Linked DNA regions of Homo sapiens: regions 2 and 3 are each linked to region 1. The links come from fine-mapping of genetic effects on gene expression. A gene starts in region 1. Each other region holds a variant in brackets. All regions are shown on one strand. Distances are between the middles of the regions.

Region 1 (4,241 bases):
TGAAAAGACTGAGGGTAAGAGAAATCACGTAGCTATTAAGTGGTTTAGCTGAAATTCACCCCATTTTTATCCTCTTCCAAAGTTAGTGCTCTTAAGAATTACATAAATAATTATATATTAAGTTCATTGTATTCTCCCTATAGGCTGCTTAAGAATACAATAATATAAGATAAAAATATGTGTACATGAACTTATATTTATCAGTAAGTACTGGGGTATAAAATTGTCTTTCCCTCTTTAAGCCCTAATGTTCATTGACGCGTTAACAATGAGTCACGATTTTATTTCTTGACAGTAGATGGCGCTGGTGATTGTCAAAAGAGACAGAGTCTCCCACACCCCTCTCCTTTCCTGAGCCATTGAAAAACAAAACAAAGAGCTGGTGGAAAAAAAACGCAAAAATTTTCATCGTAATGAAGGATTGAAATTAAAAATTTGGAACCGTCATGTGATTAAGCAGAACGTGTATATGATCCACACACTTTTATTTGGAACTCTAGGGAAAACCTCCTGAGCTATTTGTAAAATTTCATTCTCAGGATTAAAACAAAATATAGTAAAATTTGATTATCCAGACAAAAGATGGATTTATATTTCTCTATTAGACAGATTTTATTTCTGCACCTTAATTTTAGCAAGGGATGAATATTAAGACAACTATGAATTTAGTTGACAAAAAACTCACATATATCTGACTTCCAGAGTCCTGAAGGTGGTATAGAGGAGTATGGTAGTCAAGATAAAAACAAAACAAATTATTATATGACCTTTGAGTATATCACTTAATGTCTCAGGACAGAAGTTTTCTCATTTGTAAAACTGAAATATTTCTTGCCTAATTCACATGGCAGTTGCAAGGATCAAATACAGTAAAGTAGTATAAACACCTTGAGAATTGTCATGTTCTTTCCAAATATGCTTTTTTTCATCTTTACCATACAATCAACCCAACCACCTATAGGTAAAATCATAACACAAGGAAAATTGGAATTCAGAATAAAATACTTGAGCATTAAATTTCCTCATTGGTCCAAAAGCACTTTAATAGGCTTTGGTGAATTAGATTCGTGCAAGAAAAGGGACTAATGTATTTTCAACCATCAAAGGAGTGTTTAGCTTAATAATCAGCTACCCAGAAAATGAAACAGAAAAACACTTGAATCCAAAGCACCGAAGTGAACTGAAGCGGCCTCCACTGTCCTCCCCTAACTGTCCGCACGGCCTGTCCTCTGTAGGAGTGTCCTTGTGTACGTGTGGAGGTTGTGGACACACATGCCTAGGGTTACAGATGCTCTACAGACTTAACTCAGTATAGTGAAGCTGCAGAGATAGTCATAGCCCTAAAGAAGCCTATCTGAGAGCTTTCCTTTGGGTTTTACAAGAGGCATAGATATTTATTCTGCTCTTCTTTTAACAAAAGACTCCCAAATATTTGCTGAAGATGTAGAGTATTGCCATTTCTGCTTCAAAAGCTCTGAGCCTCTCACGGCACCTGTTGCTGCTGCCCCAAGAGCGGAACACACCCTCCACACCAGCAGCCCCAGGACTAGATTCAGCTTCTCAGTGAACCACTTCCATGCTCCACGATGTGCTCTGGGCTTTGGGGACTTAAAACATCGCAGCCGCGGCATAACAGAGATGCGTCAGCTTCTAAAGTCGTAGTGGGCAGTTCTAGAAACCTGACCCTTTCTTCTGCTGCTACAGATTCTATTGGCTTCTGGAGATTCAGAGACGTCCTTCCTCAAGAAGGAACCTCTGCCTGGCCTTCAGCAGGGCCACTGTCATGTGCGATATTCACTTAGAGCCTTATCACATTTGTGGCTGTAGAGGTGTTTGCGTGCCTTGTTTAATTTATCCCACTAGACTGTAAGTTCAGGGCAGATGGGGGATGTCTGGTTTTTGTTTTTTTTTTTTTTGCCTAATACTGTGTCCCCATGCTGGGCACAGACCTAGCACAGAGTAGGTGCTTGGCAAAGAGCTTTTGAATGAATGAATGATTGGCTGTAGTCTTCCTGGGAAAGGGCTGGCAGGCAAGGAAGTGTTAAACCAGCCACTAACCGCCCAGGCTGACCAGCCTTCTCCCTATCTCCCAGGCCTTTCGAACGGAGCCCGGGGAGGACAGGCTGGCAGAGGAGGGAGGAGGGTTTCTAGCTGAGAGAGACTGCGGCTGTGGGCCTGCAGCCTACCCCTCTTCAAGCTCTCCGGAGCCGTTCCTGCGAAACCAGCCCCCACAAGTGAGTGTCTGCGGCCCCCTCCCTCCTCTTTCCCTTATTGCTCCCTGTGGGGATGGGGCTGACACCGAGCTTGATCCTAAGTAAAAGTCTGTTCTAACAGGAAGCAAATAATGTTCCTCCCCTGACGGAGGTGTTTCCTTCTCAAAGAAGTTACAAAGGGCTCTTTTCAGAGAGAAAGGGGCTGGGAATAGTGTGTGGCCTCACTGCCGTCTGCCTTGGGTGGAGCCAGCACGTTCTGGAATCCAGGGGCTTCCTCTTCTAAAGAGGCGCCGGGCCATGCACTGAAACGGGGTGGCCCATCCTCTGGGAGCCCCAGTCCCCTTACCTGCTTGATACAAGCATCCTCTGGAAGTGCCTAGGGTCATTGCCAAGGCCCCTGTTTTCTTTTCTTGGCTTCCAGGACGCCGTAGTCTGTGTTCTTCCTCCCGCCCTGCAGTTCCCTAGCTGGATTCTCTTCCTCGCTGTGATCTCTTCATCCCTGGTTCCCCAGCGCTCTGTCCTGAGCCCCCTTCTCGAACCACACTCTCGTCTGAGTGAGCATATTGAGCTTCATGGCTGTACATTTCCTCCCCGTGCCGAGGAATCCCACACACTTAGTTCCAGCGCCCAGCTCGCCCCCACCTCATCCAGGTCCTTACATCCCCCTGCAGACTCTGTCTCCACTCCACCTCATTGGTGTTTCCCACTCACTAGATCTAAAGCCAAACTCTTGATCCTGACTTCTCCACCCACCAGCTTGCCTTTCTCTTCATCTTCCCCATCTCAGAGAGCGGCTCGGTCCCGAACTGTCTCTTTCCTTCACACCCTTCATCTAACACACAGCAAGGCTTCTCAGCTCTACCTTCAAAATCTACTCCTCATCTTTCTTCTTCCCACCACCGCCACTCAAACGCCCTCGGCCTAGAGGGATCAGACCCATACTACCTGGCTCCTGAACCTCTGCAAGAGTCTCTGATCTTTCTGCTTCCACTCCTGTCTTGCTACAGACTATTCTTCTGACAGCAGCCGGGGTGATCTTTTCAACTACCAGACCGTGTCACCTTGCTTAAAACCAGCTGGGGCTTCCCTCACACGCAGCATGACACTCAAACTCCACACGACAATCTAACCAGCCTCACCAACTGTGGCCCTGGCTTGTCCTTCTGACTTAGCTTCTGTCTCAGCTCAGGCTACACTGGCCTTCTTGGTATTCCTCAGCCCCCCAGCTTGTCACTGCCCAGCCTTTGCACTGTGTCCTCTCTCTGGAGTTCTTTCCCTCAGGTCTTCAGGTGGCCTTGCTCTCGGGCTTTCTGGAGAGACTTAAAAGCCATATCCATGGAGAGGCTGAGTTTGGCCACCTACCTAAGGTAGCCTCTCATCACTCTCCATGCCTTCGTCTGGCTTTCCTTTTGATTGAGCACTTGTTACTACTTGTGTTCAGCTCTTAGATGAGGGCACAAGGAACTCTGGCGGGTTTAAGTAGAAGAAGGATTTATGTGTAGACTTTGACAGCTCCAGGAATGTTTGGGAAGGCTTAGTGGTTTATAGCCAAGAAGAGTGCACGCATTGCACGAATTGGTGGGATCTCTGCTGCCCCAGCTGCCACTGGTTATGTCACCAATGCTACCGTCCCAGATACTAACACTGCTGGAACCCGCTGTCACCAGCACCCTTGGAATCCCCATCTTTCTGCAGCTGCTGCCATCTCCTATGAGGGCTTTCTCAGTCTCTTTGTCCTTGAGTCATTGGTTCCTAACTCAAATTGTGGGCCAGTGTGTCTGGCTGGTGGAGCCTTGGCCACAGGCCTTGGCTCCTTCTACAAGAGAGGCTGATAAAACCACTATCAGGCATTTTCAAATTCTATGTAATGGACCATGGGCTCTGCTTATCCACCAGATTCCATGAGGTAGGGAATCTCAAACATAGGATGGAGGTTCAGATTCTGGGTAACCAAAAAACAACGATAAGCATGCCCTTGACTAGCTGGCTTTCTAGTATATATTTACGTGTTTATGTGTCTATTGCCTA
Region 2 (4,241 bases), 61 kb after region 1:
TTTTTTATACCAGAAGTGTGACCACTAATTTCCTTAGGTCTTGCTTTGGGTTTGTTCAAGTCATACATGCGTAACAGTTTATCCTGTCCCTTGGTTAACAAATAATTACTATCCTGCATGAAATACACAGTCTTGACAATGTATTTATGAGCCAAGGTCATCAATTCATCTCCTAAGACAGCATCCCACACTTTGGCTGTGAAATCTGCAGCTGCTGTTGCTGCTTTGGTGGCATTCAGTGTTGCACCCCAAACAGCACCTTTATGACCCCAAAATGTTCCAATCCAGTCTCCTGTATCTCCCTGGCGTAGCATAGGTTTACCATCTTTGTAAGCGCTGGTTAAGAAATACCCATAAGTCGTGATGCCACTGAAGGCCAAATCAACCATGGGCCACGTGTGGCCAAAGTAGGTGAGCAGCGTCTGTCTCATTGCCATGGTGGCAGTGAACCCAGCGACCAGACTGGCGAGCTGAGTGTTGTCGTTCTCTTTTCTCTCTTCTGCTGCAGCACCTTGGGCTCCTCCAGGCCCCCGCCCTGACACTAGGGCTGGGCTGCAAAACAGGAAAAGGAGGACAATCTGGTGGCACTGAGGTTAGGAAGGGGTGACGGAGGGGTCAGGGAGTCTGACATGGGCAAGTAACAGTCGACCAGGGAGGGAAAGGGAGAAACTGAATATTTTAAAGTACTGCGGGAACAGGGATGCCAGAGAAAAAAGGATTTGGGAGAAACAGGACGCTATCCGTAAAGAACAAAAATGCGCTCAGAAGTCTGATCACAGGGAGAAGGGGGGCCCTCATGGCAGGGAGACCCATTGCTTAGAGTCTGATATTTGAATTAAGTCTCTATCTCCCACTGAACAGTAAGTTCTTGTTTCCTGTTTGCCAATATTTTCCCACAGATTATTATAGCGCTTGGTGTACAATAGTTGCTCAATGAATGTTTGTAGAATAAAAGCTGCATTTTGCTGGCTTCACCCTTTTGCCCAGGGTCAGCCATCAATCACCTGACTAACGCAGGCTTCGGGGCCACTTCTCCTGTATACACTCCCTTCCCTGACCTCTGGCTTCCTGAATCACCAGAAGCCGCGGACAGAGGTGTATGTGGTATGGCCCCTCCTGGAGACAGGTCAATCCCTCATCCTCATCTAAGACTTCCTGGAGTCTGAATAGGCACTGATTCCAAGTGTGACATGCAGTTGTAGGTGAAGTTCCTGAGTCAGGCGCCTGGCCTAGAAGAAAAAGCAACATTGCCATCAGAGGCCGAGAAGCCAGCGGACTCCCATCTCTCTGGCCTGACGCCATGAACCCAGGCATAGGACTCCTCACTGTTTCAGGTTTCAGTTTTTATAACTACACCTTCTCTGATCAGTTTTATGATACTTCTGTATGAAACTACATTAAATACTACAGCTCTTGTGTGATTAGAGGGCAGATAGATAGAGGCTCAGAAAAGTAACAAAACAACAAAAAACCAAACCAACCAACCAAACATAGTTTGTCCAGTAACCAAGAGACTGAAGTCAGGGGCCAAGAAAATCAGAAAGTGTCAAATTATTGAAGTCTCAAATTGGCTTTCACCTAATTAAAATAGCAGCTGAAATTTCCCTTTTTATACAGGGCTTTGACAACAGATTTTTCTTAAGAGTGTTGGGCCGGGCGCGGTGGCCCACGCCTGTAATCCCAGCACTTTGGAAGGCCGAGGCGGGCGGATCACGAGGTCAGGAGATTGAGACCATCCTGGCTAACATGGTGAAACCCCATTTCCACTAAAAATACAAAAAATTAGCCGGGCATAGTGGCGGGCGCCTGTAGTCCCAGCTACTCGGGAGGCTGAGGCAGGAGAATGGCGTGAACCTGGGAGGCGGAGCTTGCAGTGAGCCGAGATTGCGCCACTGCACTCCAGCCTGGGCGAAAGAGCCAGACTCCGTCTCAAAAAAAAAAAAAAAAAAA[G/AG]AGTGTTGGGTGCCTGATCCTCAGAGCATGCTGAAACACCCTCTCTGGGTTTTGCTGACACAAATGCAAAGGCTACCAATGCTAGGCCTTTGAAAGGGAGTGGAAGGCACTGGCCCCCAAATGGTAAAGTTGGTGAGACTTATCTTTCAGAAAAATTCCCCCTTGTTGATGTTTTATCCTTTGATCCAACATTATTATTCTTCCTTTTTTCCTCTCTAGAAATAAACTATTTACTCACTATTTACCTCCTTTACCTAAGGCATGCTTGTGTTTTTTTAAGTTAATATTTAATTGGAAAAGGAATCACTTGGGGTGCAGTGGGAATTTTGTCATATCAAGGTGGTCTTCCTGGACTCTCTCAAACCCTCCAAAGAAGCAATCACCTAATTCACATATGAGCAATGACAGGATGGCCAGGGGAGATTATGAAATTTTCAACATTTATGAAGGAGAGTGGATATTCCTTGAAATGAATGTTTGTTGAACACAGCAGAGATGAACTAAGACTGTGGGGGAAGCTTGATCGCAGTACCCAACCAAACCTAGAGCCCAGGGTTGCAGAAATCCACGAGGAAGAGTCCTCATGCCATGGGGTGAGCTGTCTATACCTGGGCAATGGCATTTTAGAATCAAGGGGCTGATTGATACTAAACTGAAACAATTCTTCAGTCTGGACAAGGTGAGAAAGCAGGCCAAAATGTGCTTTCAGAATTACAGGCATTATCGGAAATATATTTCAAGAAGGTTTTTCTCCTATAACACTGATATTATAACATGTTTTTTTGGGAAGTGTCACTTTGGTTGGAAGGGGTTCCTAAACCAATTTCTGAATCTCTTTCCGTACTGGCTCTAGTTCTGATGCACACAGAGCCTCCCTCAGCTTTTGGGCAGAGTCCATTTGAGACACATCATAGGATCGGGGTCTCCATGTCTTTAGCTCCTGTTCTCACTAAAGTAGGTGACAGTGAAGCCGAGTGTGAAAACAGCAACATAACTCCTATTTATCAAGCACAGACTGCATGCCAGGCACACTGCTAAGTATCTTGTATATATTATCTTTTTTGCAGGTTTATTGACATGTTATTGATGTACAATAGATTACATATGTTCAACACGTACAATTTGATGATTTTACATATGTACATACCAATGAAACCATCACCACAATCAAAAATGCACATATCAGTCACCCCAAAGGTTTTCTGACGACCCTTTTTGATCCTTCCCTTTCACCTCTCCCTGACCCATACCCTCAACCTCAGACAACCACTCACATGCTTTCTGTCACTATGGGCTGTATTTTCTAAATTTTTATATGATTGGAATCATGCAGTATGGCCCCTTTTTCATCTGACTTCTTCACTCAGCATTATTTTGAGATTTATTCATGCTATTACATATAATAAAAATAGTTCATTCCTTTATATTGGTAAGTATTTCATTGTATGGTTTTCCCACGGTTTGTTTTTCCAATCACCAACTGACAAACATTTGAATCATTTCCAGATTTAGAGCACATTAATTAAGCAGGTTTTAAAACTGAGGTAATTTGTCTCCTTTAATCCCTAGAATGAAGTTCCAGAAAACACACTTTCTGAAAATAGCCATGAGTCCAGAAGTCAAATTGAACCTTCTTCAAAAGACCAACCTCTTTCTATTAGCAGTCCAGGGATCCAGATGCTTGCAAATGTCCAGTGCAGGCCGATCTCAGACACTCCTCACAACAGAGGGGTACTGATGGCTGAGTAGACGGTGCCTGGGGAAGGCTGAGCCCAAGGCACAGAAGCAGGCAGAGTCCAGTTCCCTGTTTCTCCAGCATCCTTAGGTACAAGCGCACCATCTTGCCCCAGTGCTGGAATTCTTCAGAACCAGAGTTGCATCCAGGTCTCTTCTCATTAAAGCACTTCTAATTCCATCACTCAGCCCCAGCACAGGATGGCGGGACTAGAGGAGGTTCCGAAGTAAGTCATCTAGTAGGCATGGGCAATAGAGGGATGATGCCAGTGGGAGGTAGGGGGAATGGGAGGCAAAGCTCCACACTGGAACTGCTGCCAAAGAGCATGGCGGCAGAGGCCTCTTCTCTGGCAGTGATCCCAGGTGCTGGTGGCGCAGGATGCTTTCACAGCAGTATTCAGGGCACCATGACGCTCCATAGGTTCAGCTTAGTGGACATAACACCCTCCATGGCCTGACCTACAATGATTGGCTCATGGCTTTTAGTTTTCACACAGTCACACCTCAGGGTGAGCCAGCTCTGCAATAGGATGCACTGCTTTGTCTGCAGCCTCACA
Region 3 (4,241 bases), 47 kb after region 1:
AGAGAGAAGTAGTTTAGAGGGTTGTATAGGGAGGCAACATGATAAAGTTGGAAGAAAAATGGACTTGGAGAGAGAACAGTCAAATCTGGGCCTGCCTCTGAGTGCCTGTGTGGCCCTCGGCAAGTTTCCCTTCAACTTGAAGACCTGGGTCTCTATGATCCCTTTCAGTTGCAAGATTAAGACCTAAGAGTTCTTGCTTATATAAACAGAATTCTTCCAAGGCCATAATTATTTCCATAATCAAGAACTATTTATTAACTAAGCACCAGTGTGTGATTTTCTCAAGATAAGAGCAAGAAGAAATGGTCCTTACAGGCTAGATAGCTGTGACATGGACCAACAACTAAGCATATCTAAAAATTCGACTAATTCATAATATGAATTCAAAATATGAATTGAATAAGCAAAAATATATATACCATGGGAGTTGAATGTTTTGACGGGGAAAATCCAGACGCTGACTTTAGGATGGTACTTTCTGTTTTGATTGATCCTGAGCCACACTGGACTCTCTGGCATGGGCATAACCCGAGCATCTGCATGGCAGAGTTCTGGCTCATTGCCATTTGCAACAGACACGAAGGGTGGCATCAAACAAAAGGAAACTTCTCCGTTGACCATCATAAATGATGAAGACCAAGGCTTCAACTCACTTACTGGAGTGGATTTCCTTTTACGGATGGCCTTGGTCACCCTGGGGAGACTAAGAATGTTTAAGTAACTTAACAAACACTCAGTAAGGAATGGGATCAGGATTCTTCTCCAGGGCTAACAGTTTTAACTGCCATTCTACATTTCCTGCCTGAGACAGCTGCCAACCTGGGCTTCTGTGACTGCCACTCCATGCTTCTCAAGCCAGGGTGCACGTTAGACTCATCTGGAGAGCTTGGTAAAGCCATCCATGTCCAGGCTCACCCACAGAGTCCTCAGTTTTCTCAGTTTGAGGAGGGGCCTGGGTACCAATACTTTTTAAAAGCTCCCTCTGGGTGATTCTAAGTACAATCAGGGTGTCAATCACTGATGTCCATAATGAAAAGTGTCAGACTCCAAAGCAAACTCAGGAGGACTGCCTTCATGGTATGGATCCCTGGCAGATTTGAACCTTAGAGGATTAGGCTAGCAGCTTGTGGAAGCGGATGCAAATCTTCCAATCCTCTAAGGGCAGATGAGCCTCTGGACTCATGAGAACGCTGGTCTTGGTAAAAATCCCCTGCATACCACAGGCCTCCCTTGGAGAAATCACCTAAAGAAACACCAGGAAGAATTCATTCTGGCCTCAAATAGTTACATGGATGTTTGTTACAAGAAGACACATTTAACCATTGAAGTTCCTACTCATTGAGTGAACCGTGTCTCCCTCCTCTCTGGTTTCCAGAAACAAGGATTTTTTTCTAAACTCCTCTTACTTCTTGCCTCATGGCTAATGCCCACGGAGGTGGGGTGAGTGACCTGCTGGTAACCAAGGGAAATGAATCTGCACAGGAAGCCCAGGCCCTCCCTCCCTCCCTTCTCATTAGAAGCCAGCTTCCCCTGGAAAACAACCACATTCTGCTCTACTTTCTCATGTCTATGTGGCCCTCCCTGAGTGGGAAGGCTTAAGTTTTGTAAGATTCATCATAAGTGTGGTGATATTTCCTAATTCCAGGGAATGGAGCTAGTCATGCCACACATCTTTGCTGTT[T/C]TCACGAACTGAGGTAATTTTTATTTTTATTTTTATTTTTTTGAGGAACAGTCTTACTCTGTCACCCAGGCTGCAGTGTAGTGGTGTGATCACAGCTCACTGCAGCCTTGACCTCCTGGGCTTAGGTGATCCTCCCACCCTAGCCTCCCATGTAGCTGGGACTAGAGGTATGTGCCACCTCACCTCCTTTTTTTCTTTTCTTTTTCTTTTTTGGAGAGACAGATTCTTCTTATGTTGCTATTTTAAACTCCTGAACTCAAGTGATCCTCCTGCCTTGGCCTCCCAAAGTGCTGGGATTACAGGTGTGAGACACTGCACCCTGCCCAAGGTAATATTTTGACCTTCCTTTACCTTATTCTTTGTCCATCTCTTAATTAGTTTATAACTTAGACGGGAAAAAAGAGGTGTCTAAATAAATAAATAAATAAATTTATTTAAATAAATATTAAATAAATCCCATCAGTTCCCCATAGAATGCCATTTTCCCCTAGCTGTCTATTCATGTAACAAAACGAACAAGAAAACACTACAAATTCTCTCCCTATTTATACTGTCCCACCATTATGTTATAACTCTCATTATAATGTTTTAGTTTTTCCTTGAAATAATAATCATCAACCCATTTGTAAACCATATGTTTCTACCCACAAGTGACAACCAGAATTTCAGGATTAATTGCAAGAGCCATAAAGAGCTTTTTGGTCATTTCCCTAAGAGCCTCCATGAATAGTAACAAGGGCGAATAGTAACCCCCGGCTTCAGCTGTCCCCACTGCTGTGGCAGGTTATGATACTTTCTTTCCTAAAGTAAAGGCCAAGACAGATGGCTTTTCAGGACTTCCAGAGTCTGTATGACATAAGAAGCTTATTCCAGTAAAGGGAACAAGACCCTTGTCATCTGACACCAATGAGATGCTCTTCCCTTGGCTGGCAGGGATCTGGAGGAGGAGGAGCAGATAACCTTCAGCCTAAATAAGCAATACCATCATTATTCTGGAATCTCTCTGAAGTATGGTTGGTTACAGTGTGGAATTCCACAGGGCACGTGCCTGTCTTGGACTCTATCCAAGGGAGTAAGTTATCACAAGGACCTCATTATAACAGGGGCTCCAGGGACAGTGTCAGTCAGCAGGCTTCAAGGTAGCTGCTAAAATTCTGGTGCTGGTCTGTTTAATCACTGCATGCTTGTTAATACAGTCAAGCCTCAGTTACAACAGAATCAACAGCCCAGTTTGTCACTCATCCATTCCTTGTTCCGTCACCGCCTGGTTGAGTTTCTGGCTTGTTTATGGGGCAACTCTGGGTGTCGGGCAAAATGAATGCCTCTTGTTTGAAATGCCTAATCCCGAGGTTTTTCACCTATGTGTTGTTTTCTCCCACCAGCACCTCTGCTCCGTGCCATGCTCTTGGCTAATTGGAGTTGTGAAAGGCATGAGGATTCTGGTCATGGACTCAGCTCTCCCATAGGGTTCTGACACCAAAGCAATGGTCACAACAGTGAAAGGAAGAATCCATCTGGCCAGGCTCAGGTGGTTCAAGGCCTTCAGAATCTGCCTTGAGACTCTCACTGGCTTTAGACTGAAAACCATCTTGGCCCCGTCCATCCGTGTAAGCAATTTAACGACAGCTTGCAAAGCACCGAGCTTTAACAGAAAGAAGAGATGAGCACAGCGCAAGAACTTGGACTCCAGAAGAGCTGCCTAACAGATTATTTTTCTGTGGCATTTCATGAGAACAAACGAAGTAGGAATTTTCCTTTTGTTTGTCTGGCCTTTGGCATCGTTTACTTTCTTTTTATTCTTCTGAAATGTACTTCGAGCCCTGGCAGCATTTCTGTCCTAAAATCTTATTGTCAGAGGTTTATTTTTCAGCTTTTCAAATCATATCTGATAGAGTGAGTGTACTGCCTGGACTCATCACTTTACTTCAGAAGAAATACAGCTCACCCTTTAAATGACAATGGTGACTGTCCACATCTTTATGTTTTCTACACTGAAGTGGCAGGCTTCATTTAAAAATAATGTTTTCCCTCATCAAAAGAGAGCTAGGGTAGAACCGTCAACTCTGCTGTTGTCTGGGTAGTGACCTAACACCCACGTTTTGGACAATCACTCACTGTCTTATATTGGGTTTTCATTGCATGTAGGATAATTCTTTGTCAATGGTAGTTTTGTCAACCGTGATCTGAGGTAATGAGGTTTTCTACTTTTGCTTGAAATTTTGAAAATATGCAAGCTTTAAACATTTGCAAAGTTGGATTCTGTTTTCTTTAGAAAGCAATCTGATTTGCTGATATTCTCTCCATCTGTCAGGGGATGCGTGATGTGGTGTAGACTTAATGTGCTGCCTTTCTGGAACATGGACAGAGTAGCAGCACAGAAAAATGAGCATTTCAGCTCTGTGATGATTTGTGAAAAAAAATCTCAGATCATTGAGCAGGCATTTTGCTGACACCTGTGAAAAGTAACCACATGAGAGAGCATGGCGTGATGGTCGGAGGCCACGTGCTGGAGCTGGACTGCTTGAGTCAAATCCCAGCTGCTCAGCTGTAGTGAACTGAA

Evidence for each region.
Region 2: its variant is fine-mapped to the expression of PIRAT1 in whole blood (INTERVAL, PIP above 0.99).
Region 3: its variant is fine-mapped to the expression of PIRAT1 in whole blood (INTERVAL, PIP above 0.99).

Annotation. Positions count from the first base shown.
Region 1 is chr2:37,873,736-37,877,976 of GRCh38, reverse strand. PIRAT1 (PU.1 (SPI1) induced regulator of S100A8 and S100A9 alarmin transcription 1) reads left to right here and starts at 2,114. Exons shown (of 4, transcript NR_110012.1): 1 at 2,114-2,234.
Region 2 is chr2:37,813,111-37,817,351 of GRCh38, reverse strand. It overlaps the pseudogene LOC344382. Among named protein-coding and RNA genes, the nearest start is that of PIRAT1, 61 kb to the left of the region's middle. The variant G/AG (reference allele first, on the strand shown) is at 1,951.
Region 3 is chr2:37,826,701-37,830,941 of GRCh38, reverse strand. It overlaps PIRAT1 (PU.1 (SPI1) induced regulator of S100A8 and S100A9 alarmin transcription 1), which reads left to right. Exons shown (of 4, transcript NR_110012.1): 3 at 1,904-2,009; 4 at 3,064-4,241. Among named protein-coding and RNA genes, the nearest start is that of PIRAT1, 47 kb to the left of the region's middle. The variant T/C (reference allele first, on the strand shown) is at 1,682.